Regions from separate parts of the Homo sapiens genome. Here regions 1 and 3 are each linked to region 2. The links come from fine-mapping of genetic effects on gene expression. A gene starts in region 2. Each other region holds a variant in brackets. All regions are shown on one strand. Distances are between the middles of the regions. Region 1 overlaps EXOC2 (exocyst complex component 2). Region 2 holds the start of EXOC2 (exocyst complex component 2). Region 3 overlaps EXOC2 (exocyst complex component 2).

What was found.
Region 1: its variant is fine-mapped to the expression of EXOC2 in whole blood (INTERVAL, PIP 0.92).
Region 3: its variant is fine-mapped to the expression of EXOC2 in whole blood (GTEx, PIP above 0.99).

What each region holds. Positions count from the first base shown.
Region 1 is chr6:615,039-625,355 of GRCh38, forward strand. EXOC2 (exocyst complex component 2) reads right to left here. Exons shown (of 28, transcript NM_018303.6): 5 at 4,392-4,505; 6 at 2,673-2,797. Among named protein-coding and RNA genes, the nearest start is that of HUS1B, 37 kb to the right of the region's middle. The variant C/T (reference allele first, on the strand shown) is at 4,255.
Region 2 is chr6:688,827-699,143 of GRCh38, forward strand. EXOC2 (exocyst complex component 2) reads right to left here and starts at 4,313. Exons shown (of 28, transcript NM_018303.6): 1 at 4,193-4,313. RefSeq lists enhancers at 3,640-4,526, 5,956-6,464 and silencers at 3,933-4,002, 4,013-4,072.
Region 3 is chr6:531,265-541,581 of GRCh38, forward strand. It overlaps EXOC2 (exocyst complex component 2), which reads right to left. Exons shown (of 28, transcript NM_018303.6): 23 at 1,205-1,346. Among named protein-coding and RNA genes, the nearest start is that of HUS1B, 120 kb to the right of the region's middle. The variant G/A (reference allele first, on the strand shown) is at 4,575.

The sequences.
Region 1 (10,317 bases), 74 kb before region 2:
AGGGCCTATAACATGAATTTTAAATGATTTAAAAATTAGAATGCAATGCTAATAAAACATGAAAATCTTAATAGAGAATTTCAGGGAAAACAAACCAAAATAAAGCAGAGACAGTAGAGGTTTGAAAAGTATATGTGGGTGTGGGTGTGTGTGTGTGTGTGTGTGTGTGTGTATGTATGTGTATACATACATATTTATCTATCTGTCTCACCTGTTCGTTCCCAGTCCCCCCTTGAAGCTACTGATCCACTGCAGTGTCTGTTCAGGAGACCCCAGACACGAATGCACTCCTGCCTGGTGTGATGAAACAGGAAGCACAGCACTATCCATGCCTAAAAGTGTTGAAAGTGAATCTTATCTAATATCCAATTAGATGAGTCCAAGCAATTTAATGGCAAGAAAAATAAGTTAAATGACACCACAAGGAAGTCATCAGTCAAATTCAGAGTGGGGGATATCTTCCAGGACAAATGACCTTGTTTCTTCAACAAATCAATAGCATGAAAAACCAGAAACAGGCTGGGCGTGGAAATTAGCTGGGCGTGGTGGTGGGCACCTGTAATCCCAGCTACTTGGGAGGCTGAGGCAGGAGAATCATGTGAACCCAGGAGGCAGAGGTTGCAGTAAGCTGAAATCGCACCACCGCACTCCAGCCTGGGCAACAGAGTGAGACTCCATCTCAAAAGAAAAAAAAAAAAAAAGAAAAACCAGAAACAGGGTAAGAAAGGTGAGGGGATGGTTTTAGTTTAAAAGAGGCTTAAGAGATTTAAAAATTAAGTGAAATGCCTGAATTTTATTTGAATCTTGATTTGGACATATCACCTATAAAAATAAAGTTTGGGGATAATTTGAGAAATCTGAACTGGGAATGAGATGATATTAAACAATTATTGCCAATTTGGTTAACTATGATAATATCATTGTGATTATGCACATAAATGTCCTTGCCCTTACTTGGGAGATTATACTTTCATCTCCACTTTTCACATTTCAAAATTTTCATAACAGAAAAGTAAAAACAACTTACCCGAGCAACTTTACATATCAGCTCTGTCAAATTTGAACCATGTAATTCCTAGTCTACATAGTCCACTGACAATAGTGGATCTCTCTGTGTTGCTCTATGTGCTGTCAGTGGTAATTTAGAGAGAAGAGCAATAAGCACAAATAAAGAATGGCACACCATCAAGAAACATAAGGCACACATATTTATCAGGAAGAGCACCTACCTTCTCTGTTCCCTCTTAGACATTCACATTTTACCCCTTCAAAAACCTAACTTCTGCCGGGCGCGGTGGCTCACGCCTGTAATCCCAGCACTTTGGGAGGCCGAGGCGGGCGGATCACGAGGTCAGGAGATCGAGACCATCCTGGCTAACACGGTGAAACCCCGTCTCTACTAAAAATACAAAAAATTAGCCGGGCGCAGTGGCGGGCGCCTGTAGTCCCAGCTCCTCGGGAGGCTGAGGCAGGAGAATGGCGTGAACCCGGGAGGCGGAGCTTGCAGTGAGCTGAGATCGCGCCACAGCACTCCCGCCTGGGCGACAGAGCGAAACTCCGTCTCAAAAAAAAAAAAAAAAAAAAACTAACTTCTACCTGCAAGGAAGAAGCTGCATCACATACACTGCATCACATACACATTTAATGTGTTGGAGGTCAATTAAGTATATATGGCACAGGAAGAGGGGGGCTTATTTATTTATTTATTTATTTAATTTATTTAGAGATGGGGTCTCGCTCTGTCACCAGGCTGGAGTGCAGTGGCGCGATCTCGGCTCACTGCAACCTCCGCCTCCCACGCTCAAGCAATTCTCCAGCCTCAGCCTCCCAAGGAGCTAGGACTACAGGTATGCACTACGCCTGGCTAATTTTTTGTATTTTTAGTAGAGAGGGAGGAGGGGGACTTTTAAAATAATAAAAGAATGTCTATACTTTAGGAATAAAAATAATTTTTAAAATTTACCTTCCTGAATTGAAGAAGATGTGGCCTCAATGCATGGTTAGAGTTATGGATACTTAAGCTATATGGGTATTTAGTTTTAAGTATCTTAGCTATTAAAAAGAATTGAGTTAACTTTTATTGATATAGATTACTTTTTACTAAATAGCAATAATTAAACTTTCATTAATTAAAAGCAGTTTTATAAAAAAAAAACTCTACCAACATCTTGCATTAAAATGTCTAAAGCTATGACATCTGTACTCCATACAACGTCCCTCCCATACACAGATGGCACAGTGACAGCTACCTGCGTGCATACGTGGGCGCCTGTGCGATAAGGGCTGAAGAGACTGGTATCCTATCATCAGCCTTTCCAAAGTGAACACACAATGGGTTGCATTTATAGAATTAGTCACATATGTAAGATATTGGTGGTTGTGCATTGGGATTTAATTTCGTATCAGCCCTGGAGTGTGGACATCACAGAGAGTTAAAGTAGTCTCCCATTTCACACATGTAAGATGGGTTAACAAAAGCCTCAGAGATAAATTTTTAAAGTACCAAGTCTTCAAAGAGATGCCAGCCTACTCTGCAACAAATATTTATAGCACATTTGAGATCTCTACTTTGATAAAAACAGACCGAGTGTCACACCCTGTAAACACCCTGCAGGCAGTGCCGGGTTTCCATGGCGGAAGCTGCCAGCAGATGGCTCTGAGGATCGCCTTACCTGAGAGGGCATCCTGTGCTTCGAAGAATGTACTGAGACCGCCTTTCACATAGGCCAGGCTGCCCTCACTCTTCTTGTTAGCCTGTCTCTTTAGGTTGGTGACTGCCATTTTGAGCTGCTCAAAACTGAAATGAAATAAAGAAACCAAAGTTTGACACTTCTAACATGCAAGAAAGAAAAAATAATTCCTTCAGTGGAGAACACTAAATATGCTAAAACCGATGCTAAGTAGCACACAGATTAATATCATACGAAGCCAGATGAAATCAAAAAGCTTTCAAATTGTTGCGTAGATCTAAACCTTTTATTTATTATGAATGCCTAAATTACAACAGCTACAAGACTTTCGGAGCCCTCGATGGTAATTCCAAATACATTAGACCCCTAAGAAGTAAATGTGTAGATGTTTTTATAACCTATATATAATATATACAATTTACCAGATAAAGAGTTTTGAACATCCTGTACTAGGTAAGAAGACACAGATCATCCAGTGATAGACAACATTTCAAAGATGGAACTGCTTTGTACATTCACTGAAGCATTGTGGAACACTAAGCATAATGTTATACTTATCAGTATCCAGTCCTCTGTCCTTAGTCATAAAATTACATGAATCCTGTGGGTCGATTCACAACTTAAATAACTAGGAAGACCACAATATCTCATCTCAATATCTAAAGCAGAGAAAACTAAAGACAGGCCTCTGTATTTCAGAAGTTTTATGTCCATTTGAGCTAAGAAAATCCGGCTATAAAACTTTAAACGTATTCTTGATAGACCTACACAAGAAACAGAGCTCAATTCTGACTTATAATAATAGAAATTCTACATCTGTAATGTAAAATCAGAATCATCTTCTACAATGAAAAAATTCATCTTGGACATTTGCTTTAAAAAGCAATCAGGTTAAATTTACCCTATGTATTAAAATGCCAACCTTTCCTCATCTTGGACATTTGCTTTAAAAAGCAATCAGGTTAAATTTATCCTGTGTATTAAAATGCCAACTTTTCCTGATGTTTTCTAGTAATGCTTTTCACCCTAATAAATGAATGAAACATTTATATTAAGGTATATTTTAACACACTAATTTATCAATAATTTAAGTTTTAAGCAATAAACCATTGATTTATCCAAACATTTTTTGCTGAATATAATTATTTTAAATCAATCTTGCAAATAAGCTACAAACTTGCTCTTGTACAGAGTAAAATGTAATTAGAAGACAGAAGGGAACCTTCAAATTGGATATATGACCTTGTCTACTTTTTTGCTAATTTTAAGCCAGGTCCTTACATGATGATAAACCAACTCATCTTCCTTTGCCCTATGGTCAGAGAAGGCAGTGTGTTCCATGTTTTACCCCAGAACTTAAAATTTTTATGTTATTTGAGTAGGGAGAGATCACATTCATACATGTCAGTTTAAGTCCCCAGCTAAGGCTCCATAAATTTTTAATAACCTGCATCAATAATGAAATATATTGAACATAAAATGACAGTAGGAAATGAGAGACCTCTAAAGAATCATCCCATTGCACAAACAGGGAAACAGACACCCTGAGATGTTCACGGGTAAA[C/T]GCAAAGTCAAAGAGCTCGCAGACCTAAAACCATGTAACTGTATGCAGAGCCAGACCTAAAACTCGAGTTACCGTGTAATTCCATCTTTAGCATCTGAGTGAAACCCTTCACAGTTGACAGTCCCATATCCACTAACCTGGTGTTTGAGTGATTCTCTATAAGATACCAGGCTGCTGAGAAATTCTCACTTGTAAAATCAGCACTCATTCCATGGAATAGCATTTCTAAGTCCTTCTGCGAAAATTTACTTCTGAGGGGAAAAAACGTTTAAAATATATTTCAATGGTTATTATGACAAAAATGGAAAAGGTATCACTAAGTATCCAGTATAACACATATGAATACTAACCATTACAACAATACATATTAATCATACATTACCCAGAACATGTTTGTATATATGTACAAAATATATTTCCCACATCATGGCTGATTTTTCTATCACTTAAACTTTGATTTTATATAGAAAAGATAGGAAACTAGTTGAAATACAGAAATTACATCAATAAAAGAATATAAGGTTTAAAGAGGATTAAGACATCTGGCTGAGTTGACAGTTTTATTAAACCTATCAAAATATGACATCAATCCCCATTCAATGTATAAAAATCAAAATTTGAATACAGTGAAATTCTAAAATATTAAATCACTTTGTTAAAATGATTTTTGTTAAAACCTAGATGAAAGTTGTTTTAAGACATACTAAGAAATCATCAAAGTACTAATAAAACCACATCTAATCACAAAGCACTCACATTTGCGTCCATGTCTAGAATGACTTTAAGAAAAGCTTGTGATAACAACAGGGTATATACATAATCTGCTGCTCCCTCATCTTGCCTACATGTTTAAGACTGACTTCTGGATCAATTCATTTATATATTCGTTCGACTATTAATCAAGTATCGACAATAGATCAGGTTCCATGCTGGGATGCCAGATGTACCCACCGAGGCTCACAACGTGGCAGCCTTTGCTGGCGCCCCCTGCCCCATTTGCAGGATGAAATCCAAGCATGTCTATGAACTGAATCTGCTTGTCCCTCAGGGCTCATTTCTGCCACTCTAGGCATGAAACCTGACGCTTCGGCAGCCTCAAAGGGACTATACTGTCTCGCATGTTGGTCTCCACCATCTTGGGGTTTACTTTGTTCGTCTGATTTGCCGCCCCCTCTAAGATGTGTCCCCTACCCCAAAACACTGGACAAGCCCAACTCATAAGGTATAAACCAGACACAGATCATTTGATAGGGTAGTATCTCTTTAACAGTTACGCAGTGGGGAAAACACTCCTACCCCAAAAGAATTTTAATGTGGGTAGGTCCGATGACTTTGGTATTCTCTGGGAGAGTCTTGCTGTCTCCTCATTACAAACACAGCCTCAATTCAGAAATTAGGCAGCTTAGTTCGTGATCCACACTCCAACTTCACCCAAAGGTAACATTTTTTTCTTCCCTCTTCCCAGCCAAGGTCAATAGTTAATAGGCTGCTTACTCGTTTGGGGGAAAAATGGCAGCTCTCTCGTAGAGGTTAAGGGTGGGATGGACAGAGAGACAAGAATGGAATGTCCTTCGGGGCCTGTGCCTGGTACTGCCATAGGTGGTCTGTGCTCTCTGCCTGCCAGGTATTCGAACCTACTTGAGTCTTGGGGGCATTTTCACGGGTTCCCTAAAGGGCTCTGGAGGACTCCTCCAGCCATGACTCATGGATGCATCTGCTTCCTATTGCCACTCCTCAGCCTCCAGTGGTCTCAGTCTTACCGCAGACACTCCCTGCTGGAGCCCCTCCACGTTCAGGTGACCAGTGCCCATAGGCACAACTTCCAATGGCCTGGAGCCCACTCTCTCTAGCAAGGTGCTTGCACACCTGGACATGGAGAACACCCCTAAAATGCAGCCACCTCTACTGTCCATGCAGGCTCTGTGTCTCACAGCTGCAGGGAACACTGTCACCTGGAGGTCCCACTCACCAGGCCTCAGTGAAGACGGTCACATGCTCTGCATCCTCCCACTTCATGGCCTACCCCAGCTCTCCCCACAGATATCTCTGCACAAACCCTCCTTGCCTCTCTACACATCCTCTCCCTCTGTGGTCCCTAGAAGAACAGGGAATGTGAGCTGCAAAACCAGATCTCGAGGAGTTCCTCTATCAACCCTGCACAGCGAGACGCCACTCACTCCAAAGTCTAATGCCTACTGCGTGAGCATCTCAGCCAGGACAGGGCGTCCCATTCACATTCGGTAACACTGTCCTTCTTCACTATGTTCCTTTTTTGACTGGGTGGGGGATGCCTTGCTTAGAATGATGATAACAGAAAAGAAGACAGATGAGATTTTGGGAGGTGGCACCACTTCCACCGAGACTGAGTCGATCGTGCATCTTTTCTCACTAGCTTCACGAGTTAAAAGATTTATAGTCTGAATCCTCCCGATACATGCATGTGGCATTCATTACTTGCTGGTCCTTTTCACCGGTCAGCAGTCTCTGGGAGGGAGGTGGAGAACTTTGAGTTTTTAGAAGTTTATTTTGGTTTGGATTCTTCATGCTGGTTCTCATACTTTACTTAGTAAGAAAATCCTTTCACCTTTGGAAGTTTTTCTCACTTTATTTATCTGCACCCCATGCCTCCAAGTTAGAGCTTTGGGGGAATATAGAGACTGAGTGGAGGCTTAGGCTAAGCTGTGACATGCTGAACCCCGGCTAAGTGACCCAGAAGTGCCTCCTTCTGCAGTCCTGCTCTAACCGGCAGGCAGCATCTGCCTGGAGCACTGTGTGAGGGATCACGGGCTTTGTCTCAACTCAGCTAGAAAGAATGACATGACCAATTAGTAAGGCGTGTCATCGCGGGCAGAAGTCATGGTGGCTGCAGACCATGTTTCTGTCGACCTTCCTTCTAGACACGGCCATTCAATGTGGTGTCTCACACTTCACTTGGTCAGAGAGTTAAATGGTCTGAACAGAATCAAAATGCGCTACTGGTATCAACTAAGTTCCTACTAACAACAGTCTTCACACCTGATTTAAGTACAAGACATCCTCATCCAGCAGGGATCAAGTCCAAGTAACCTAAGGACACAGCTGAGAAAAAAGAAACGAAAGAAGGCTGAGAAGTCAAACAGCTTCTGTGCCCCTCCCCCACGCCCATGGTGCTGCGCTGTGCCTCGGTGTTTCTCTGCCCATAATCGAACAGGGAATGAACGGCAGTTGCTAGCGTTAAGAGCTGATGATGTGAAGAAAGGATCTGTGACACAATGGTAGCAAGTAACGCAAGAAAGTATAAAATGCAGACACAAAACTCAAAAATACAGCAGCTGCATGCCCTGGAGAAACGGCTAAGAACACACAGTCCCCATGGGTCTGGCAGCTACGTCATACTCCACGTGTTTAGCCAAAATAAAAAATGTTTTAAAAAACAGAATGTACACAGCACATACAGAAAAGGCTCTGTCCTAAACAGTTACAATGCTTAAATTGGTGGTACTGATGGTACTGAACAATGTAAACCAGCAGCTCAGAGCTTTCCATTCTGTACTCCATTTTTAAAATTCCCCTGATACTTAAACTCTGGTAACATCTCACTTACAATGCATTACTAAATTGTTATTTTTACAAATCTAAACTGCTCTCAGTTATATCATAACATAAAGGCCTGATGTCTAGTGGAGGGCTCCAGGAGAGGGACTGTTAAGATTTTAAGAAACTCTCCTACCCCCAGGAGTCCCTCCCTCCCTCATCCTCAGAAGGAGCAGGGATGGGTCTAGCCAGTCCCTAGCAGTGGGGCCCCTGGCCAGAAAGCAGTGGGTCTGGTGAGGTCCCCACTGGCCCTGCACTCCCAGCTCTTCAGCCATGAACATCCCGTGCACCACAGGCCGCTGGGAGGACACGGGTGGCAGAGCCTGAGACTTGGCTTCTGCATTGGAGTGAGCAGGGAGGCCCAAGCCCCTGGAGCTGGATTCTGAGATTCGAGCCCCACCCACCCGCCAGCACCCCTACCCGGATGCGTCGTTCCTTCAGGCCCCTGAACTGGGCCAGGTACAATTTGAAAAGCACTACATCTCTTGGTCAAAATACCACCTCCCCTAAGACGGAGCTGATTATTCTGAGAGTTCTTACTGAAGACATTAAAACTCTTTCACTGATCTTAATTGGAAGACATGTATTGAGACTTATAGCAGAAATCAGCCTTACAAGAACAAGACAGACATTATTTTCAAGATGGTGAAATTCTAACACAGATGTCAAATAATCTTCCCCAAATCACACCATTAAGGCCAGGACTAACCTTGCCCGGACACACAGAGCCTGTTTCTAGTGGACACTGTTGGCTATGACCCACCAATCACCCTGGACCCTCTCTGCTGAAACACAGCCCCCCAATTGCCCCTTAACTGGGGAGAGATCAACCACCATAAGCCAACCGCGCTTGTCATATTCCCCCTGCTCTTGATTGGATAAACTTGTTTTTGAACAGTGATGTCGGAGGAAGGTCTGTTGGAGCACATCTGGGAAAGGTCTCCATACTTTCAAGAAGGGAAACCAAGAAGAGACACCATCTTTCTGCCTGAGAACATCATTATGTCCAGTTTCAACCACAATTGCTAAGGAAATGTGTTTTATGCTAAGGGCAACAGAACAGCCAGCAAACCCAGGCTCCTCACATCTTGGTGACATGACTGACTCAACCAACCTTTGGAGTCTGCCATCAATGAATATTGTATATTATGAAAAAGTAGATTTTATTTTTGTTTAAATCAATCTTAATTGCAGGTGAAGGCATCCTGATTCCATATTCTATTGCAAAATATATGCCTAAATATACTGATCTTTTATGCAAACACCTCAAAAATGTGAAATAAATGAGTTAGAAAAAACAAAAAATGAATACCAATGCCAGAGTCCATGAAGCTCCATGGGTAACACAGCTGCAAAAGTACAGGTGGCTCATCTCAGTATTCCCAACGGGAAGCAGCAGTAATAAGCAGTGGCTAAGAGCACAGGCTCTGGGTTCAATCTCGATGTTTGCTCAATCCACCTGTATAATCTCGAGAAGTTATTCCATTATGAATGGATCACCATACCTTCCTCTTAGGAATGTTTTGAAGATCAGAGTAGATAATGCTTGTGGAAGCCTAGCAGTTTCTGACACATGATAAATGCTCAAAAATGTTATTTGCTATTATTTTTATTATTTATACTTATTTATATCTTACAGACTAATTTCCTAAGTATTATTTGATTCCCATGACAATAACTGAGTTAAATATTTCCATGTTCCAGATGAGGAAATGGCCTCTGAGAGGTTATATGTAAACAGTCGAGATTTGAACCTGGTACTTCTACTGTCAAACAGAGAACCAGAGGGTTTTAGGTGGGAAATACGATCACAACTACAAATCCGTAAAGATGACAATGCAGGAGAGTGCGAAAGGGGAGCTGCTTTCAAATGAAGAGAATTGCTAATGCCCTTAATAACAGTAACAGGAAAGGAAGAGGTAGTATATCAACACAGCTAATGAAGCACGGAGTAAAAACTCTTACGTTTGTTCAGAATAACTGGATTTCGGATTCTACATTTCCAAGTGAAGTCCCGGCTCAGACACATCAGAAAAAGCAACATACGCTCTGAGTACTTCAAACCAAGCCTGCATTTTAAATCCACTAGCACAGAGTTAGGACTGAAAGTGACAGAGACCCTACTGTGTAAACTCACGAAATGTTTTCATCGAGGAATCGAAACACACAGTTTCAGTCACGGACAATTCCTGCCACCCTGAACAGATATGTTTTCCATTAGATGGCAGTGTAAGGTCAGATTTAAACCTTCTAAAAAACAGCTAGCCCCAAGCCAGGAGAAGACACAGGCCTGTGGACTGAGCGAAGAGACACAAACAGGCACGTTCTTCACACTTCAGCACTTGCTTTCCAGTATGAGGACTCTCTGCAGCAATGACCCATGCAGCATGCAAATCAATGGGCCTCCTTCTGAGACAGCCCCAGCCACCCCACACACAGTGAGGCCTGGCTGCAGCGGTGTTATTCCGCGCTTGCGGCAAAGAGAACACA
Region 2 (10,317 bases):
CACATGGGGTTTTCATTAAAATTAAACTAAAGCCAAACATGGCCTTTTGTCTCGTTTTGTCTTTTGCTAAAATTATAATACAATGAAAGTTAAATCATATGCCCTCCAAAATCACAAACCTTTAAAATGAGAAAAGGCCTTTAAAAATTCATCCATGCTTACAAATGAAACGAAGGGGCAGCCTTGTGCAAAGTGGCACTGTTAGCAAGCAGTAAAGGGAAAAAAGCCTTCAACGCTGCACTTGTCACTGAGTGCTTAAGATGTGCCGGGCACTAGTCTTGAAGCTCTCTGGATCCACCCTGAGCAGCTCACCTTCTCCTAAGCTGAAATCCAGTCTTCCCCAGTCCTGTGTCCAGTGTTCGTTCCATTATTGGCACCAAGATTTACTGTGGAAAATATTACATAGAAAAACTGATAAACCCAAAAACAAAAATAAAGCAAACTGGATGATGTATTTTTAATCTGAAATGCTACCAAGGGAATTAAGGTAAAGGATGTTCAGGAAGCTTTTGAGCTGGCCTAATAAAACTTTCCAGGAAAAACAAACAACAAAAAAGAACTGTCTAACAAATCAGTTCCAAACTCTTCTGCCTGTCAGTCAAGGCACTCCACCCATAATCCAAAATGCACTCACTTACCAGCCCCTGGGCCTTTGCTCCTGGTATGCAGCCCAGGTGTTCACACGCCTTCCTTCATCAAGCTCTTATCATCAAAGCTTCCCAATTACTCTAGCCCCAACGGATCCTTCCTACCTCTGAGCTTCTGCTGGACTTACACTCAATACTACAGAGTTTAGTTCTTAGCTATTCTTTAATTGAGAGGGCAAAAATACCCCTTATGAATCCAGGCTAATATTATTTGATTTTTAATATATGTGTCAGGCATACAGTAAGACTGGAAGATACAAAAATAATTAAAACTAATCCCGATCCAGAATGAGCTTAGTCTTTTACTGGTGTATGTAAACACCATTAATAATATTGTCCCTAACACAACACAAGTGCTATAAGACAAGTGCTAGGTGGTTATAGGATTCACTGAGTTGGAAAATTTCAAGGCAGGAAGGATTTCAGAGATAATCTAACTGCATGTATTCTCTGAATACACAAAAAAGGAAACAGTCCAAAGCATCTAAGCAACTCAGCCAGTACTATGAAGCAGACCAGATTAGACCAAGGACCAGTGTATAGTTGCTTTGACGCCTAAGCCAAAAATACCTTTTGACTCTGTGATTTTCAAATTGAGATCAGCCAGGCACAGTGGGTCACACCTATAGTCCCAGCACTGGGAAGCTGAGGCCAGCGCATCACTTGCATTCAGGAGTTCAAGACCAGCCTGGGCAACGTAGGAAGACCTCACCTCCACAAATAATTTTTAAAATGAGCCGAACCCGGTGGCACGCACCTATAGTCCCAGCTACTTGGGAGGCTGAGGTAGAAGGATTTCTGGAATCATGGCGCTCAAGGCTGCAGTGTGTTGTGACTGTGCCACTGCACTCTAGCCTGGGTGACAGAACAAGACCCCCTTTCAATCAATAAACAAACTGAGATTGAAGGATGCCGATGCGTGTGTCACCCATCGCTTTAAGATTCATAATTTCCCGGCCCGGCGCAGGGGTTCACGCCTGTAATCCCAGCACTCTGGGAGGCCGAGGTGGGTGGATCACGAGGTCCACCGTCACGAGGATCGCGACGGTGAAACCCCGTCTCTACTAAAAATACAAAAAGTTAGTCGGGCGTGGTGACGGGCGCCTGTAGTCCCAGCTACTTGGGAGGCTGAGGCGGCAGAATGGCGTGAACCCGGGAGGCAGAGCTTGCACTGAGCAGAGATCTCGCCACTGTACTTCAGCCTAGGCAACAGGGTGAGACTCTGTCTTTAAAAATACAAAAAAGATTCATAATTTCATTACAATTACTTTTAAGTTTGTGTATTCATATCAATAATAATTTTTGACTAATATAAACATACTCTAAAGCATATGATTAGAAGTCCACACTATCACCATGTGATTTCAGCAGGCAGTCCAGAAGGTCCAAGAACATATTCCCCAGGATCTGAGTACAATCAACATCCTAGTACACCGCTTAGCAGAGTGATCAATGAATGTTATTTCCCAGTTTCAAAATCCTCTCAACAGTGACCTAAAATTCATCCATTCAATAAACATTTAAGCACCTACTATGTGGCAGACGCTGGACTAGGAACCCAGGCTGGATTAAGATGCGTAAACTGGAGAATGAGTGGAAAAGTAACTGAGAGGACACCTCTGTAACCAGCACTTCCTGTATGGCCTAATCTTGCTGCTGCTTGACACTAGAAATATTAAAAGTTCTTTGCTAGAAGACTATTTTTTCAGTACCAACTTCATTTCCCATATGATTCTTACATAATGGGCTCCCAAGAACTTAGCAAGTTAATAACCATCTTTTAGAAAAGTAATACAGTTGACCCTTAAGCAACATGGGTTTGAATGAGACAGATCCACTTATACACGGATTTTTTCAACAAAAGTTGCACTGAGTGTGCCTGCATCTCCCACTCCCCTTTCACTTCCTCCATCTCTTCCATCTCTGCCATTCCTGAGAAAATCCCTCCTCTTCTTCCTCCTCCACAATCTACTCATGCAGACTATGGGGATAATAACCTTCATGATTCTCCACTTTCATTTAAAGAAGAGTAAATACATTTGTTGTGATTTTAACATTTTCCTCTCTCAGCTTACTTTAAGAATACAGTATATAATACGTATAACATACAAAATACATGTAAGTCAACTGTTTATGTATCAGTAAGGCTTCTGGTCAACAGTAGGCTATTAGTAAAGTCCTGGGAAAGTCAAAAGTTACATGGAAATTTTTGACTGCGTGGGCACCCCTAACCCCAGTGTTGTTCAAGGGTCAACTGTAGTTCAAAATGGCATTCAATACAGGAAATTAAATACTTGACAAGAAAAAAAGATCACTTTCTAAAACTTCCAAGAGTTGGTCCAAGTCACACTGGGGGAACTCTGCTTCTCTGCTTTAATTTATTAAGTTTCTACTTAGACAAACAAGTGAACATGTAAGTACTAAGCACACATCACCCTCTTTCTATTACTACTCTGGGAATCGCCAACTTTTAGCACAAAAAAATCATCTTTGAGAAGATTCTGGCTTTCAGTTGATTTGTCATTAAAGGAGTCAGTTACACAAAGCATGGGCCAGTACATACTAACATTCATAAACAAAACATTATTATGCATTAGAAGACAGATCCACATAAGCTCAGAAGTAACTTTTCAATATTGCATAGTGCACACAAAAAGATTTAATTAAAGTGTGGCTAACTTAGAAAAAATATTTTTTAAGTGTTCCTTGTAAGTTTACTCACAGATTCATAAAGGCATCAGACTTAAAATTTCTCAGACTTATTAGTATGTTGACCTTTGGCAGATTAAAAATAACTTACTTCCATTCAAAGACGAGTTCTTTCAAGAACTATTTCTCGGAATTACTAAAGTGTTTTCTTAACAATCTTGGGATACAGGGTTACGCATCACCAGGCTTCCAGGCTGCTGGTGTGCGGACCTGGAGCCGGCGCGCAAGGTCTCAATGGCAGCTACAACAGGACCTCAGGCTCTTTGCTCAAGCACTCTGAGCCGCCGCTCCCCTATCCGTAAAATGGGTCACACGGCAGCGTACATACACCCGCGCGAGGATCAAGTACGTGCACGCAAACGCTGACAACAGCGGCAGGCGCCTTTTAAGCGCTCAGGACAGCCAGAGCGGGATGCACGCCTAGGCAGACAGGTAACACCCGCCTCGCGTTCACTTTTCCGGAGAAATTCTCAAATCTCACGGAGTGGCAACTGCGCAAGGGCGAAGCGGCGCAGTCTGGGGCCAGCTCCAGCGGGCGGGGCCTGGAGTCAGCCCTCTGCAGCCCACGCCCCTCACCGGCGCAGGTGGGGACCGCGGGGGTGCGAACTGGCGGGGGTGGGCGCGGAGCCCAGCAGGCGGCTGACGGCGGGGATGGGGGCTGCGGGGCTGGGAACCGCGGGGGGTCGCGGGGCCCCGCAGGTGACCGACGGCGCCAGTGGGCGCGGCTGTCCCTTCACCGCTGAGGCCTGGACGGACGCCGCAGGCGGCCACCTCCGTGCAGCTGACGTCCATGTCCCGCTGGCCTTCGGCCAGGCCCTCCAGCCTCCCACACATACCTCCAGCCGTCCTGCCGCAGCTCACGGCCGGCACAGACAGGGCCCGGTAGGTCTCGCCGAAGACTCCGCGGCCGCCAGCCGCCGGCACCTCACTTCCGCCCGCCGCGAGCGCCGAGCGTGTAGATCCGCCTGGCAGTCGAGCGCCGAGTCCTCGATGGGCGGAGCCTTCAGGGGAGGGTAGAGGAGGGGAGGAGACCGGCGCGGGTGCTGGAGGTCAGCAGGGGCCGTGGGCGGTGGACGCTGGAATGCCTTGGGTTCCGAGGGACCCAGCTGCCTGAATGGACACGAGTAGGAGGTTTTTGCTGGGCGTCTTTGCGGTGGCGGGAAGCGGTGAGGGAGGGAAAGAAGGATACAAGCTCAAGGGGCAGGCCGGGTGCACCATCCATCCCCGTGCCCTCGGGTCATCTCAGGGAGACTGTGGGATGATAGTGCGTTTGTGGGCCACAGTTCACAACGATGGGCCCTGCATCGGGTCAGAGGACCCCTCCGGAACAGGGGGATGCACAAGGTCAAGAGAATGCATGGAATCAGAGGGCTGCACCAGGTCAGGGGGGCTGCACCGAGACCAGAGGAAGCATCAGGTCAGGAGGATGCACTGGAGTGTGCATCCCCAGGGGGCCACACTGGGTAAGGAGGATGCACCAGGTTAGGAGGCAGCACTGGGTCAGAAGGATGCACTGGAATCAGGGGACTGTACCAGGTTGGGGGGCGTGCCTCAGGTCAGGAGGAGGCACTGGGGTCCGGGGGCAACATTGAGTCAGGGGCAGCCCTAGGTCAGGAGGATGCATGGGGTCAGGGGGCTGCAGGGGTTTGAGGGCTGCACTGGGTCAGGGCGCCATACCAGGTCAGGGGATGCGCAGGATCGGGGGAGATGCCCGGGGTCGTGGGATGCTGGGGGTTGGGGGGATGCTCGGGGTCGGGGAGTTCTCGAGGTCGGGGGATACTCGGGGTCAGGGGGTTCTCAGGGTTGGGGGGATACTTAGGGTCAGGGGATGCTCTAGGTTGGGGGAAGCTCGGGTTCAGGGGCTATGGCCAGGGAGGAAGGACAATCAGGAAAGTGGGGGTAGCGGATTCTGGAAGCTAAATAGTTTCAGGAAGGAGGAATTGATAGCCAATGTTCAGAAGTACTGTGAGGCCAAGACTCCAGAGACAATTGAGTTTGGCATATGCCAGTCATTGGCATCCTTGACAAAAGCAGTTTCAAAGGAGTGTGGGGAAGCTACATCTCGTCAGAGTGGACTGTGAAAAGAATATTAAGTGAAGTGGAAAAAAGTAAGTTTCAACAACCTAGGTTGGCAGATTTAGCAATAAAAATACAAATACCCAGTAAAGTTTAATTTCAGATAAACAACAAGTAATTTGTAGTATAGATATATTTATCACTAAACTAATGTTGCATGGGATATACTTCTACTAAAACATTGTTTTGAGAGGTGACAGCGTGCTGGCAGCCCTCACAGCCCTCGCTCGCTCTGGGCACCTCCTCGGCCTTGGCACCCACTCTGGCTGTGCTTGAGGAGCCCTTCAGCCCACCGCTGCACTGTGGGAGCCCCTTTCTAGGCTGGCCAAGGCCGGAGCCGGCTCCCTCAGCTTGTGGGGAGGTGTGGAGGGAGAGGCGCTGGTGGGAACCCGGGCTGCGTGCGGCACTTGCGGGCCAGCGCGAGTTCTGGGTGGGCGTGGGCTCAGCGGGCCGGCACTCGGAGCGGCCAGCCAACCCGCCGGCCCTGGGCAGTGAGGGGCTTAGCACCTGGGCCAGCAGCTGCTGTGCTCAATTTCTCCCCGGGCCTTAGCTGCCTTCCCGCGGGGCAGGGCTGGGGACCTGCAGCCTGCAGTGCCTGAGCCAACCCCCCCCGCCATGGGCTTCCGTGCGCCCGAGCCTCCCCGACGAGCGCTGCCCCCTGCTTCACGGCCCCCAGTCCCATCGACCACCCAAGGGCTGAGGAGTGTGGGCGCATGGCTCGGGACTGGCAGGCGGCTCCACCTGCGGCCCCGGTCGGGATCCACTGGGTGAAGCCAGCTGGGTTCCTGAGTCTGGTGGGGACTTGGAGAACCTTTATGTCTAGCCCAGGGATTATAAATACACCAATCGGCACACTGTATCTAGCTCAAGGTTTGTAAACACACCAGTCCGCACCCTGTGTCTAGCTCAGGGTTTGTGAATGCACCAATCGACACTCTGTATCTAGCTACTCTGGTGGGGACTTGGAGAACCTTTGTGTCCAAAATCTGTGTCTAGCTAATCTCGTGGGGAGGTGGAGAACTTTTGTGTCCAGCTCAGGGATTGTAAACGCACCAATCAGCACCCTGTCAAAATGGACCGATCAGCTCTCTGTAAAATGGACCAATCGGCTCTCTGTAAAATGGACCAATCATCAGCAGGATGTGGGTGGGGGCCAGATAAGAGAATAAACGCAGCCTGCCCGAGCTGGCAGTGGTAGTTTGCTCCGGTTTCTTTCCACACTGTGGAAGTTTTATTTTTTTGCTCTTTGGGGTAAATCTGGCTGCTGTTTATACTTTGGGTCCACACTGCCTCTATGAGCTGTAACTCTCGCCGCGAAGGTCTCTAGCTTCACTCCTGAACCAGCGAGATCACGACCCTACCAGAAGGAAGAAACTCCGAACACATCTGAACATCAGAAGGAGCAAACTCCAGATACGCCGCCTTTAGGAACTGTAACACATACCGCAAGGGTCCGCGGCTTCATTCTTGAAGTCAGTGAGACCAAGAACTTACCAATTCCAGACACAGTTTTAGTATTTGTTAGTAAAAGTACGGCCCCAATATTGCACGGGACATACGTATACTAAATTGTTACTATCTGAAATTCACATTTAACTGGATGTTCTGTATTTTCATCTGGCTACTTTGACAACCCCTCTGAGGAGTTGTGTGACAAAGGGAGCAGAGATGGGCGGTAGTTGCTAGAGAGGCATGGTATCAAGGAAAAAGTCTGTTTTAAGATGGGAGCTATTAACAAAACATGTAAAGAGGGAACCGCTGATGCAGGAGAGAGGGAGCAACTGCAGAGCAAGTCTTTGAGAAAGGTAAGAGAGGGTAGGACCTGTTGCACGAGGGCAGAGGTTGTTCTTAGGAGCCACCAGAGTTGAGCTGTGTAGTAGGAGAGTGAGCGGAATGTGAAGCTATAGCTGTGGGTTGGTAGACATGGTGAGGAGAAAGTGAGAAAATACTCTTCTGGTTGCTTCTGTGTTAACAAAGGAACCAACAAGATCATCTGTGAGCAGGGGGTGGGGACGAGGGAGGACTGAGAAGGGGTGAGATTGTTAACTTAGACATTGTAAGGCGAATTGTTAAGGATATGTAGCCAGATTGCCAGGCAGGGCAGAATGCCCACTTGGGATGTGTGGTCTTAAGTCTCAAATGGAACCAGTCGGCCTGCTTGTGTTGTTTTGGCTGCTCTAGTGCAGGCAGGGAGTTAGAAAATTAGTTGTAGCTGAGATTGGAGTTTGACACAGAAGATGGAGCAGGGAACAGAGGAGTTCGGGTTCTATGCAGAGAAATAACATCAGACAGGATCATGGGGTTTAAGCTGGTGTGACAGGATATTTAGATGGGTTTTTCTGGTTATCCTGGAATTGGCCACTTGAACTGGCAAAGAAGGCAGATAACTAAGGTGACCACATGTTCCACTTTGCGTGGGATGACTGATTTGTGTCTGTTATGAAGGCTTAATTATTGAGTGCCCTTTTTACTGTCAAAAGTGTTCCTTTTAGACGCTATATGGTCACCCTAAAGTCTCCCCGCACTATAGAGAAAGCCCCCTGGCCGGGCGCGGTGGCTCATGCTTGTAATCCCAGCACTTTGGGAGGCCAAGGCGGGTGGATCATGAGGCCAGGAGGTTGAGACCATCCTGGCTAACATGGTGAAACGCCGTCTCTACTAAAAATACAAAAAATTAGCCGGGCGTGGTTGCACGTGCCTGTAGTCCCAGCTACTTGGGAGGCTGAGACAGGAGAATCACTTGAACCCTGGAGGCGGAGGTTGCAGTGAGCCGAGATTGTGCCACTGCACTCCAGCCTAGGCTACGGAGTGAGACGCTGTCAAAAAAAAAGAAAAGGAAGAAAAGAAAGCCCCCAGCAATTGGGTAAGACACCTCTTGAAGCTTATGAGGAATTCACTCAGCTGTTTTAATCTGGGTTAGACGCCTCTTGGAGCTTATGAGGAATTCACTCAGCTGTTTTAATCTGGGTTAGATGCCTTTTGGAGCTTATGAGGAATTCACTCAGCTGTTTTAATCTGGGTTAGTACCTGTTGGCTCGAGGCACCCACGAGCCTGTGCTTGCTGCTGTCAGAGTGGAGCTGAGCATCAGTGTGGAGTTCTTGGCGGAGTTGGGCTGCCCTCAGGACTATATGTGACCAAGAGTATGTGCCTGCTTTTGGTGCAGAAATTCCCAAAGGTAGGAGACCTGCTGGAGAAACATAAGAGCTGGATGGAGAGGAGGGTGGCCAGGAAGCAGCTGCATAACCATGCTGTGGATATCACAGCCTCTCAGCTCAAGAACTCACACATGCTCCTCACACAAACAGTATTTGGCCCATCTATGTGTCTTACACAAATGCCTGCCCGGCAGACAGCATCCGCAGCAGAGCACAGAGCAAATGGGATGATTCAGCTAGGGCAGGTCAGGCAGTCTCTGCACAATGGGCCTGTGAATGGAATGGCCATTCACAGGGTTGGAGGCTACAGGGACCCACAGAAAAAGGCAGATCTAGACAGTGCCTCTGCCCTCTCCAGCCGTAGAGGCCAATGGGCAGCCCATGGTATGGTGGCTGCCGTCTCTCGGTGGCAAGTTGATTTCCATAGGCCCAGATGCATATTCTGGGTTTGGGTTTGGGTTTGTCTTCCTTGCTTGTAGAGCCTTCCAGGCATGACTACCCAATTGCTTACAGAATGTCTTGCCTTATCACAGGATTTCCCATAATACCACCTTGGACCAAGCACCCTTGTAAGAGCGAAAGAGGCAGACAGAGGGGACGTGACCGCAAGCTCCACTGGTTCCACCATAGATCGCACACCCCAGACTGCCACCCTGATAGGACATCAGCATGGCCCCACAAAGGCACAGCGAACGCTCCAGCAGAGTTGGAAGCTGTGCTGTGGGATGCAGTATATATTCAGAGCCTAATATCAGTGTATGGTGCAGCATCCCCAGTAGCCAGGGTCCTGGCCCCTGGGATGTGCCGAAGATGCTCTCCTGGGTGACACAGGGTTCACTAAATCTAAAAGCCTCTCCTTACTTGGGATCCTCATGGATCCCAGGCAACAAAATTTGGTCCTGGTTATGAGTAGGAAACGGGAGGGAGGATTATTTCTGGAATGCAGGGGACTCACTGGGCATCTTTTCCTTGGCTGGTGATACCAGTAAACTGGCAATGCAGCAACCCTGGCCTGACAAGGAATGATAACCAAGGGCTCAGACCTCACAGGGAAGAAGGTCTGGGTCACCTCGTTGAGGAAGCAGCCTGGGCCACAGAAGTGCTAGCTGCAGGTGAAGAGAACGGAGCCGGGTGATTAAGGAAGAAGATGATGAAAATCACTGTAGCCTTAGAACTAACTGCAGCAGTGGGCATTATAGCCCAACCTATTGACCCTCCTGAGGTGGGTTTTTTCCCCCAGTAAAGTATGACTGGACACCATCATGAGGAATCAGGGCCAGGACAGAGATCTGTAGCCGTGGATCCGCCATACCAGGCAGGATGGTAACAGAGGCCATCAGTGCCCATCCAGATTCCCCCAACTGAAGGCTGCTTTCTGGGAACACCTGCATCTCTCTTTGTGCTTGAGGGATTTCTTTTTGGAGCAGAGCAAGCTGGAAGCCCTAGAGAGTTAATTCAGAAGAAGGCCTCGGCCAATGGCAGGCAAAGAGTTGGTGTGTAAATGCCCTGGCGGGGGTAGCTTGGCTGGTTGCACGTGCCCCATTGCATGGCAGAGTCCCAGGGAGCTGCTCCAGTCTCCCTCGGGGAAGTGCCCCATAGCACACCTTTACTGGCCTCCCCACTCCCCTCCTGCTCTTTCCTGCTGTCACCTCCCAAGTGAAATGCTAGCCCTGGATCAGCTTCTGGGGGAATCCAGTCAAGGTTGTTATTATCACAGACTAAAACAACC
Region 3 (10,317 bases), 160 kb before region 2:
CAGCTTCCCCGGTTTTACTATCATGAGAAGATGTTGTAAGAATTTTAAGTAAGATACTGATAGAACCTGCCTTAAACTTTAAAAGGATGTACTTTGAGGGTATGAACTGAATGTGGTTTGGGCACAGAAAGTGTGTGCACAGAAAAGTGTGTGCACAGAAAAGCACATGAGGAATAAGGGCTGGCATGACTGCCATGACTGTGAGCTCAGGAAATTCAATAACTGTGGTCACATTAAGTAACTGTGGCTAATTTAATGATCCCAGTTTTTAGTTTACACTTTTGGCATCACTATACGTGAACACTATACAATAAAAACCAAAGGTGTTTAAACAGTAAACAATTTTATCATCGTTTAGTATAAGTGCCATACAATAAAAACAAAAGGAGGTTAAAGTGATTGGTTAAAACAATGAAGTTACCAAACCTGTTAACAACTCACTGGTGCTTTGTTATATCTGCATATGTACACCCATGAAGAACCCGTGTCCGATACCAGCATGACCACTTCTACATAAACTACTTCTCTACAAAAGTGCCAACAGGCAGCTTGGTTTTAGGTATTCCACGTTATTTCATACAAAGAAACAACTATTTGATCAATCAAAAGTTTACTTGATTCAGAAAGCAATAGTTATTTTAAAAATATATATTTTGAAGTGATTCAAGTGACTTTCATTTGAAATCACAAAGATAATACTTGAACTGTGTCATTCATCCTTCTGTGGCTCAATTCTCTTTGCTAAATTACTATAATAATCTTACTCCTACACACTTTTCTCCTATCCTTCGCCTTTACAGCATCACTAATCAGGTCTTACATAGAAGTGACCAGATTTCTTTAATACATTTTTTGATGATGTACACAAGGTCATTGCATGCCACTGTCACTCACAATCACTCTATTGTATCTATGTGAGAAGATCACAGGAAGCAGGAATGCATTACTAAAACGATCAATTATTACAAGTTATCATTAATTATTCTCTAGAATTTAAGAACAGCTTTAAGCCACTAATAATACAAAGTGTCCAATTTCCAAACTATCCAAGAAATGGGTTTAAGCAAACAAAAAGTTAAAATCAAATTAATCTCTCACTCTCAGTAGATATGAGAAAAATGAGAATAAAATGAAAAGAATTCAAGCAAGTATCAATTGATAAAAGTATATCCACATCTATTACTCAAGAAACTTTATTACTTACCTGTTGGAGGCAGGCAGTCCTTCCAATCAAAATATCCTGCATAAATTCCAGGTTCTAAGGAGCCAACGATGGGATCTGCTTTCAACTCGATGTAATTTTCAAAGAGTCTTTGATCTAGTTCTTTCAATGAGGCCATGCTAACCTATAAACACATAATGAAGAGTATGAGTTGCCTATTTGAGGGTGATGGAAAAAGTAAAATAATGTTAACAATAAATACTTCAGACTATAATAAAAGCACTTCTCAATTTTCCTACAAAAACTCGTGACTTTTATATATTTTCAGTAACAAAGATCTCTTTTAGCATAGCTATTTTGCAGGAGAAAAAATAATCTCCATATATGGACTACAGGTCATTGTATTAGTCCGTTCTCATACTGCTATAAAGAACTGCCCAAGATTAGGTAATTTATAAAAGAAAGAAGTTTAATTGACTCAATTATGTTATGCATGGCTGGGGAGCCCTCAGGAAACTTACAGTCTTGGTGGAAGGCAAAGGGGAAGCAAGGCATCTTCTTCACAAGAAGAAGGAGAAGGTGGCCAGAAGGAGAAGTACCCAGTGGAAGGGGAAGAGAGCCCCTTATAAAACCATTAGATCCCATTAGAACTTACTATCATGAGAAGAGCATGGGGGAAACGGCCACTACGATTCAATGACCTCCACCTGGTCTCTCCCTTGACACGTGGGGATTATGGGGATTACAAATCAAGAGGAGATTTGGGTAGGGACAGAAAGCCTAACCATATCATTCATTTTTGAAAATACTAACCACTCATTTCTGTACACAGAGCAAGAGGCATTATAAATACTAAATTGTAATAGCCAGTAAACTACAATTAAAAAGGAACCATTTAAAATCATGTTCTGTTTCTTCATATTAACTAATTCATTTGAAAAGTGTGACCAATAGAAAATAAGCCTGCTCTGACACTCCAGTAACCCCAGTGTGGCTCCCCTGGATTCTCCCTCCAGTTACAGCTCTGCTTGAGGGGCGTGCAGGTCAGGCCTTCGAGTCTAAGGCAACTCCACAGGGAGGCCAGACACACGCTCGCTGTCATGGGCAAAAAGGAACAGGAAAGACCCCTATCAGTAAGTCCTGTCCTTGGCACAGTTCAGCTGCATGGACTGTGGGGGCTCCCGATGGGAGTGGGAGCAGAAGAGGGTAAGGAGGCTGGCATCAGCCCTACGTGAGTGTGCCTTGTCTCACCAGCAGGCAGGAGGCCAGAAGAAGAAGAGGGGGGAGGCAGAGACCCAAGCATGGAGGATATGGGAAGTCTGGGGTGTGGAGAGTCTGTGGGCCCAGGTCACCCTGCAGGGGGCTGGTGGCCGTTCTGCTTCTGCAGCACTGGCCTGAGAGGGATAGGCTTCTCTCCAATGCCAGGCCTGAGCTGCAACGAACTACAGTGAAAAATAAACACACGTCTAAGGGAGTCCGCTGCTATGCACAGGCACATCCACCAAGCAGTGAAACTCAGCTGCAGAAGAGACAAGCAACAACTTGAACAGAAAAAAGAAAGAAAACCCTCATGACGATTAAAGTATAATACAAAACAAGATTTCCAGAGGTGAAACATACAACTTCCAAAGCTAACAAATGAGTAGATTAACACAAGGAACTCCTGGTCACTGTTGAGACTGATCTGAAGTGCAAGAACTACTTCAAAACATAGAGTAAAAGTGTAAAGACATGAAAACTATGAACAACAAGACTAGAAGATAAACCCAGGAGCTCTAACATGCAAAAAATAGAAATTCAAGTAAAGAAATACAAGCAGATAGAGAAAAGGTATTCATTAAACAAGCAGTAGGAGAAAATTTAACTGGATCTAAAGAAAGACCCAAGTTTGCAACTTGAGTAGGCTTGCAGAGTGCCAGGCTAGACTGGTAAGACAGCCCACATATCTAGGCAACTACTGTTAAAGTTTCTAGTTTCTAATACATTTACTCTAAATGAGAGAGAGACAGAGAGAGAGAGAGAGAGAGAGACAGAGACAGACTGACTTTCAAGCTTCTAGATCAAAACAATAATTTACTTACAAAGAAGAAAGAACTGGTCTGACGTCAGATTTCTCACATGCAGTACTGGGAGCTGAAATCACTGGATTAAAATCTACAGGAATGAAAGAACAGAACCCAAGAATCCTGTATTTAGCCAGCGTGTCATTCTCTTAACAGAGTCCGAGAAAGATATTTTTGGATATGCAAGGGTTCAAGGAGTATTTCACCCATGTAATGAGAAAGGGCTCTAACCTAAAATCAAACACATCAGAACGAAGAAGATGAACTACTGAGGAAAACAGTGACAGGCAATAACTCTGAGTTCCCTCTCGCCCTTCTTTATCTCTCTCTTTCTCTAGTATCTATAAACACAAACCGAAATAGATGATTAGAGACTCCCTGGACATGTGAAATACAAGTGTGAAGTAAGATTTCTTCAAAGGAAGGAGGCATCCAAAAGGGAAATACTAATAACACACAATGAAGAGATAACATATCAAAATCTGCAAGAGAGAACCAGTGGCTAGAAATTTATAGCTGAAAATGTTTTAAAAGAAAAGTTTAAAAGGAGAAAAACTTAAATCACTGCTCTAATTTTCTGCCCCAAGTATCTAGAAAAAGAGAAAATTAAACCCAAAGAAAATAGAAGGAAAAGATAAAGAACAGAAATCAATATCTTAAAAAGGTAAATATTAAAGAAAACCACCAATGCCAAAAGTAGGATCTTTGGAAATAATAATAAAAATGATTAGCCAGGCATGGTGGTGCGCATCTGTGGTCCCAGCTACTTGGGGGCTATGGTGAGAGAATGACTTTAGCCCAGGAGATCGAGGCTGCAGCGTGGTATGATTCAACTACCGTACTCCAATCTAGGTAACAGAGCAAGACCCTGTCTCTTAAAAAATTTGAAATTTTTTAAAAATTAAAAAGGAATAACAACAGAAACGATAAGCTCCTGGGCAAGACTGATGAAGAAATAAAGAAAAAAACCCACATATTGCCAAGAACAGAAATGAAAAAAGAAACATTCCTATAGATCCTGAAGACATTAAAAGGATAGTAAAAGGACATTACAGTTTTATGCCATCAAGTCTTGACAACATAGAGGAAATTGCTAATCTGCTGAAAAACACAACCTTCAAAAACTGGCACAAGTAGTCCTATATTTATTAAACTAATTGAATCCATTATAGACAAGGACTTGACAATGAGAACTTCAGGTCCAGGTGGTTTCATTTGTGACTCTACCAAGCATGTAAGGAAGAAATTATAGCACACACAAACATTTTCATAGAATAGAGGCTGAAAGCATTTCCTATTTTGTTTAATGAAGCCAGTATAACCCTAATATCCAAACTGAGCAAGATATT[G/A]TAAGAAAAAAATCACACGCCAATAGCCTTCATGAACAAAGACATAAAAACCCAAACAAACTATTGGCAAATAGAAACTATAAATAAATTTTAAAAACATATCATGCAGAAGTGGTATTTTTTCAACAGATGAAAAAGCACTTGAGAAAATTCAATATACTTTCATGACAAAAATTCTCAGTAAACTAAGACTAGAAAGAAAATCAGCTGTGTAAAGGGCATCTACAAAATGGTACAAATATAGAGTGCTTTCTCCAGAAGATCAGGAATAAGGCAAAGTTGTCCCCTTTCACCACTATTTCAAGATTATACCAGAGGTCCTAGTCCATGAGATCTGGCAAGAAATAATACCAAAAAAGAAGAAGTAAAACTGTTTTTATTAACAGAAGACATCATTACGTATTTAGAAATTCTAAGCAGGTTGACATACTAATGGAATAAGTAAATTTATGGAGGCAGCAGAGTCAATAACAAAAATCAATTATATTTCTATATAATAGACATCGAAGGATTATAATACAATACCATAAAAAATAAAATACCTAGGAATAAACTTAACAAAAGACATGGAAAATCTCTAATGGAAACTACAAAACACTGCTGAAAGAAATTAAAGATGGCCTAAACAAATAAATAGGATCATCAATATTGGTAATTTTCTCCAAATTCAATGAACCCCTAAAAGGCCTTTTCTTGGTAAAAATTCACAGGCTAAAATTTATATATAAATGGAAAGGACCTAAAATAGCCCAAACAATTTAAAAAGAACAAAGTTGGAAGACTCATACTACTTGATATCAAGACTGACTATAAACCTATAATAAATAAAACAATGCAATATTGGCATAAGGATAGACATCATAGACCTAAACATAAAAGTTAACATTACAAAACTTCTGGGAAAAAATATTCAGGACATTGAAGCAGGTAAAGATTCTGACAACATATGAAAGGCATTAAACATTTTAAAAGCTTGATACAATGGATCTCATCAAAATTAAACAATTCTGTTCAAAAGATATTATAAAAACAAAACAGCAAGCCATGAACTGAAAAAATATGTATGCATGACAAAGGACTTATTTAGAGCCTTCTAAAAATCGTCAATAGAAAGATGACTGATCCAATTTAAAAATGAGCTGGGGTTAAACAGCACTTCAAGAAAGAAGCTACCTGAATGTATCTGAATATACAAGAAAAGGTGCTTAACATCATTGTTAGGGAAAACCAAATAAAGCAACAATGAGACTGGCTGAAATAAACAAGATTGGTAATATTAAGTGTTGGCTAGGATGCAGTTTATAACCGAGTTTATGACCGACGGAGCGTACACTTGAGTTGACGACCGACGGAGCGTACACTCGAGATGACGACCGACGGAGCGCACACACGAGATGACGGCCGACGGAGGGCACACACGAGATGACGGCCGACGGAGCGTACACTCGAGTTGACAGCCGACGGAGCGCACACACGAGATGACGGCCGACGGAGCGTACACTCGAGTTGACGGCCGACGGAGCGCACACTCGAGTTGATGGCCGACGGAGCGTACACTCGAGTTCATGACCGACGGAGCGTACACATGAGGTGACGGCCGACGGAGCGTACACTCGAGTTGATGGCCGACGGAGCGTACACTCAAGATGATGACCGACGGAGCGTACACTCGAGTTGATGACCGATGGAGTGTACACTCTGGAAAACTACTCAGAGTTCCTAATCAGCTTGTGCCACGACCAGCTATTGTACTTCAAGGTTTATATCCAAGATCAGTGAGTACAAACATCCACAAAGAGACTTACAGGAATATTCACCACAACTTTATCCATAAAGGCCTAAAACTGGAGACAACCCCATGTCCATCACCATGAGAATGATTAAACAAAATCTGGTTATCCAAACTCAGCAATAAAAGAAAATGACTCACTGGTACACACAACTGGATGAATCTCAAAAAATTAATTTGGAGCAAAAGAAGCCAGATACAAAAGACAACAAACTGCATGGAACTCCACGTAAAGTTCTGGGACAGGCAAAATGATTCTCTGCAGATAGCAGCTGGAACGTTGCTGAGAAGGGAGCCTACTCAAACAGGGCACAAGGGAAGGTTTTGTATTTTCATCTGGTGGTGGATGCTGGAACGTGTGCATATGTAAAAAGCCATCAATCCATAAGCTTAAGATTTGTGTCTTTTACTGTAGGTAAATTACACCTCATTTTTTAAAAAAAGAAGGGAAAAGAGGAGTTGAAAATAAATAGATGTGCAAACAGTTAATAGGCAAATGCTACAAAAAGAGAGTAGAATGGCAGTATTAATGTGTGATGAGGCAGGATCAATGTCAGGAGTACACAGCTCATACTTTTTGTTGTAAGGATTTAAACAGATAATTCAGGAAACTTGCATAGCACACTGAAAGCAAATACATAATAAATGCTAGCAGCTATTTCTATTAACTCAACAGCCTCATTTTCACTAACACCCTGTTCACACTGGCTGCTGAACATAGAAAACTGGGTCTGCTTGATTCCTGCTCAAAAAGCAAGGGTCAGATCCATCTACCATTAATCGCTATCTGAGAGTGAGGAAGAAAGATTAACTTTAAAAACATCCTGACACTAAGGAAATCAGTCTTATAAAGTGATGTGTTTAAGGAATGCAGTGGTTAAACAGAGACGGAGCGCTAAAGGGTCACTGATGGGGGTGAGAAAGGCAGCAGAGTAGACATGCCTGAGGGTCCAGTGGCCTTTTAGGGCAGGTGTCTCTAACAAAAACACAGTGCCTCCTTTAAAAAAGATAACAATTTAATTGTGTACAGACAGTCCCAACTTATGAGAGTTCAACTCATGATTTTCCCACTTTACCAGGGTGTAAAAGCAATGCGCATTCAGTATGTTCCCTGGCTTATGATGTGCTACGTCAGGTTAAACCCACTGTAAGTAGAAAATATCTGGCCGGGCACAGTGGCTCACGCCTATAATCCTAGCACGCTGGGAGGCTGAGGCGGGTGGATCACGGGGTCAGGAGTTCAAGACCAGCCTGGCCAAGATGGTGAAACCCTGTCTCTACTAAAAATACGAAAATTAGCCGGCTGTGGTGACAGGTGCCTGTAATCCCAGCTACTAGGGAGGTTGAGGCAGGAATTGCTTGAACCCGGGAGGCGGAGGTTGCAGTGAGCCAAGATCACACCACTGCACTACAGCCTGGGTGACAGAGCAAGACTCTGTCTGAAGAAAAAAAAAAAAAAGAAAATATCATAAGTAGAAAATGCGCTTACGATATTTTCAATTTTGGAAGGGTTTATCTGGAGGTAGCCCCATCATAAGTTCAGGAATATCTGTATTCAGAAATAGACTTACTCACTGAATTCGTACATATTAGCACTGAGGAGGGTCTTTCGAAGCATTAAAAAACTGTGGGTAATAACTTACAGAAGTAAAAGGCGTATGCTGGAGGCAGAATTCTGGTGTAATGGACAATACTCCCAATAAGCCAGCGCCCTGCCACCTTAGCAGCAATCATGTATATACTCAACAACATTTCCATCTCACGCACCGGCACTGATGCCAGCCAGTGCTCCCAATAAGCCACCGCCCTGCCTTTCTTAGCAGCAATCACGTACACTCAACAACATTTCCATCTCACGCACCAGGCACTGATGCCAGCCAGTGCTCCCAATGGACAGTCCTGGAGAAGAGATGCCTAAGTCGATTGTCAAATTTCTCTAACTTCTTTACTGTTGTCTTCAACACAGTCACAATGGTTTAAAAGATAACATCATTATTTTGATGTATTTTAATGTTTCCAATTTAAAATTTCCAATTTGTGATTTTAAAAACTTTTTGATAATAATGTTTTTTAAAAATTATGCTTCCAAGAAAGAAAATAAACAACAAACAATTATTTTCATTCCAATTTGGCCATCTGTATAGAAATAAGGTCATCAAACTATCATTAGAACATCTATCCAAGTGACTCTGGATAACTAGGTTCAGACAAATTAATTTTTTTTAGCTCTTTTCAAATGGATGGCAGGACAGGTGGCAAACTGACATTCCTTTATATTACTGAACCACAACTTGTCAAATGGGGGCAAAATAAATGCCAAGTAAATAACTAATTTTAAAAAACCTCTTAATTCCTAGGAGAAGTATTAACACAAAAAAGAAAACTACAGATGAAACAGGATATACTGTCACCTGAAACAGAAGGACAGCCTGTGTCTCCAGGACTTGTTAGCGAGGGCTTCCAAGCCACACATGCGCACACCATGCCCAGCTAATTTTTTTATTTTTAGTAGAGATGGGGTTTCACCATGTTGGCCAGGCTCGTCTTGAACTCCTCACCTTAGGTGATCCACCCACCTCAGCCTCCCAGAGTGCAGGGATTACAGGCAGGAGCCACCACACCCAGCCAGGAATTTTTAATAATCAAGTTAGTCACCTCACATCCTATATATTAGGCTTCAATTGTTTGCTCCACTGTTCTCAATAGGATAATCTTATCCTTGACGATTTGATTTTCTATCTATACAGAATAATCGGAAAGACACTGGAAAGAACTTTACTGCTACCACTATCTCCTTCCCTGATTTCTGAATTATACCATTCCAGAGTAAGTTAATAATTTCCCCTTACTTAGTAACAAAAAACAAAGTTTCTGGAGAAGAAACACAACTGAAATAACATTTCAATACACAGTAAATTTCAGCAAGATTAGACACAACTGAAGAAACAAGGAACAAAAAGAGAGAGCTGAGGAGATTACCCCAATCAGTACAGACAATTAAAGATGAGGAGAATAAAAAAGAAAAAAATTAAGAGATGTGAAGAATAGAGTGAGAAGGTCTAACATACACCCAATAGGAGATCTTAAAGGACAGAAAAGTTTGAATGGAGAAGAAAAAATATTTGAAGAGATAATGGCTTAGAACTTTCCAGAATTGATTAAAGACATCAACCAGAGCCAAGGGAACAAACAGGCCAAAAAACATAATAATACCAAGACACATAATAAAAATACAGAACAGAAGAGGCAAATAAAGTATCTAAAAAGGAGCCAAGGAAAAACCTTACTACATTTTTCTCAGTAATCAAGAGATCAAAGTCCAAACCAAACAAACAAAAGGACTGAACAACATAATCCACAAACCCGATGTAATAGACATCTGTGGAATGTGGTATCCAAAACGTAAGGACACGATCTTTTCAACCGAGGTAGGGTTTCAGAAAACTGTCCACATATGAGCTTACAAAGCAAGCCTCAGCAAACCTAAAAACATGATATTCTCTGACCTCAGAACAATGATGTTAGAAATCTCTAACAAAGAGAAAACTAATTCCAACTGCTCCTCTGCTCCCTTAGCTTGGAAATTTAAAATCATACTTCTAGCCAAGACTAAAATAGAATATTAAAATTCAAAACTAAAAAAAATGAAGAATAACTAAAATACCACTTGCGAAAACATGGGAAACACAGCTAAAAAGACACTTAGAGGGAAATTCACAGCCTTAAATGTTCATATTAAAAGACAGAAAGGTTTAGAATTAATGAACTATGTAAATAAACAAGATTAGAGTCCAAATTACTGCAAGAGAAAGCAAGGATATAACGAGAGAGCACTACTAAAGTCAAAAGTTATTCTCTGAAAAAGACTCTGGCAAGAAACAAAGAATAAAAATACAAACAAGCGATAGTAAGTACAAAAAATGACCATATCGCAGCTGAGGTTGAAGGAATAAA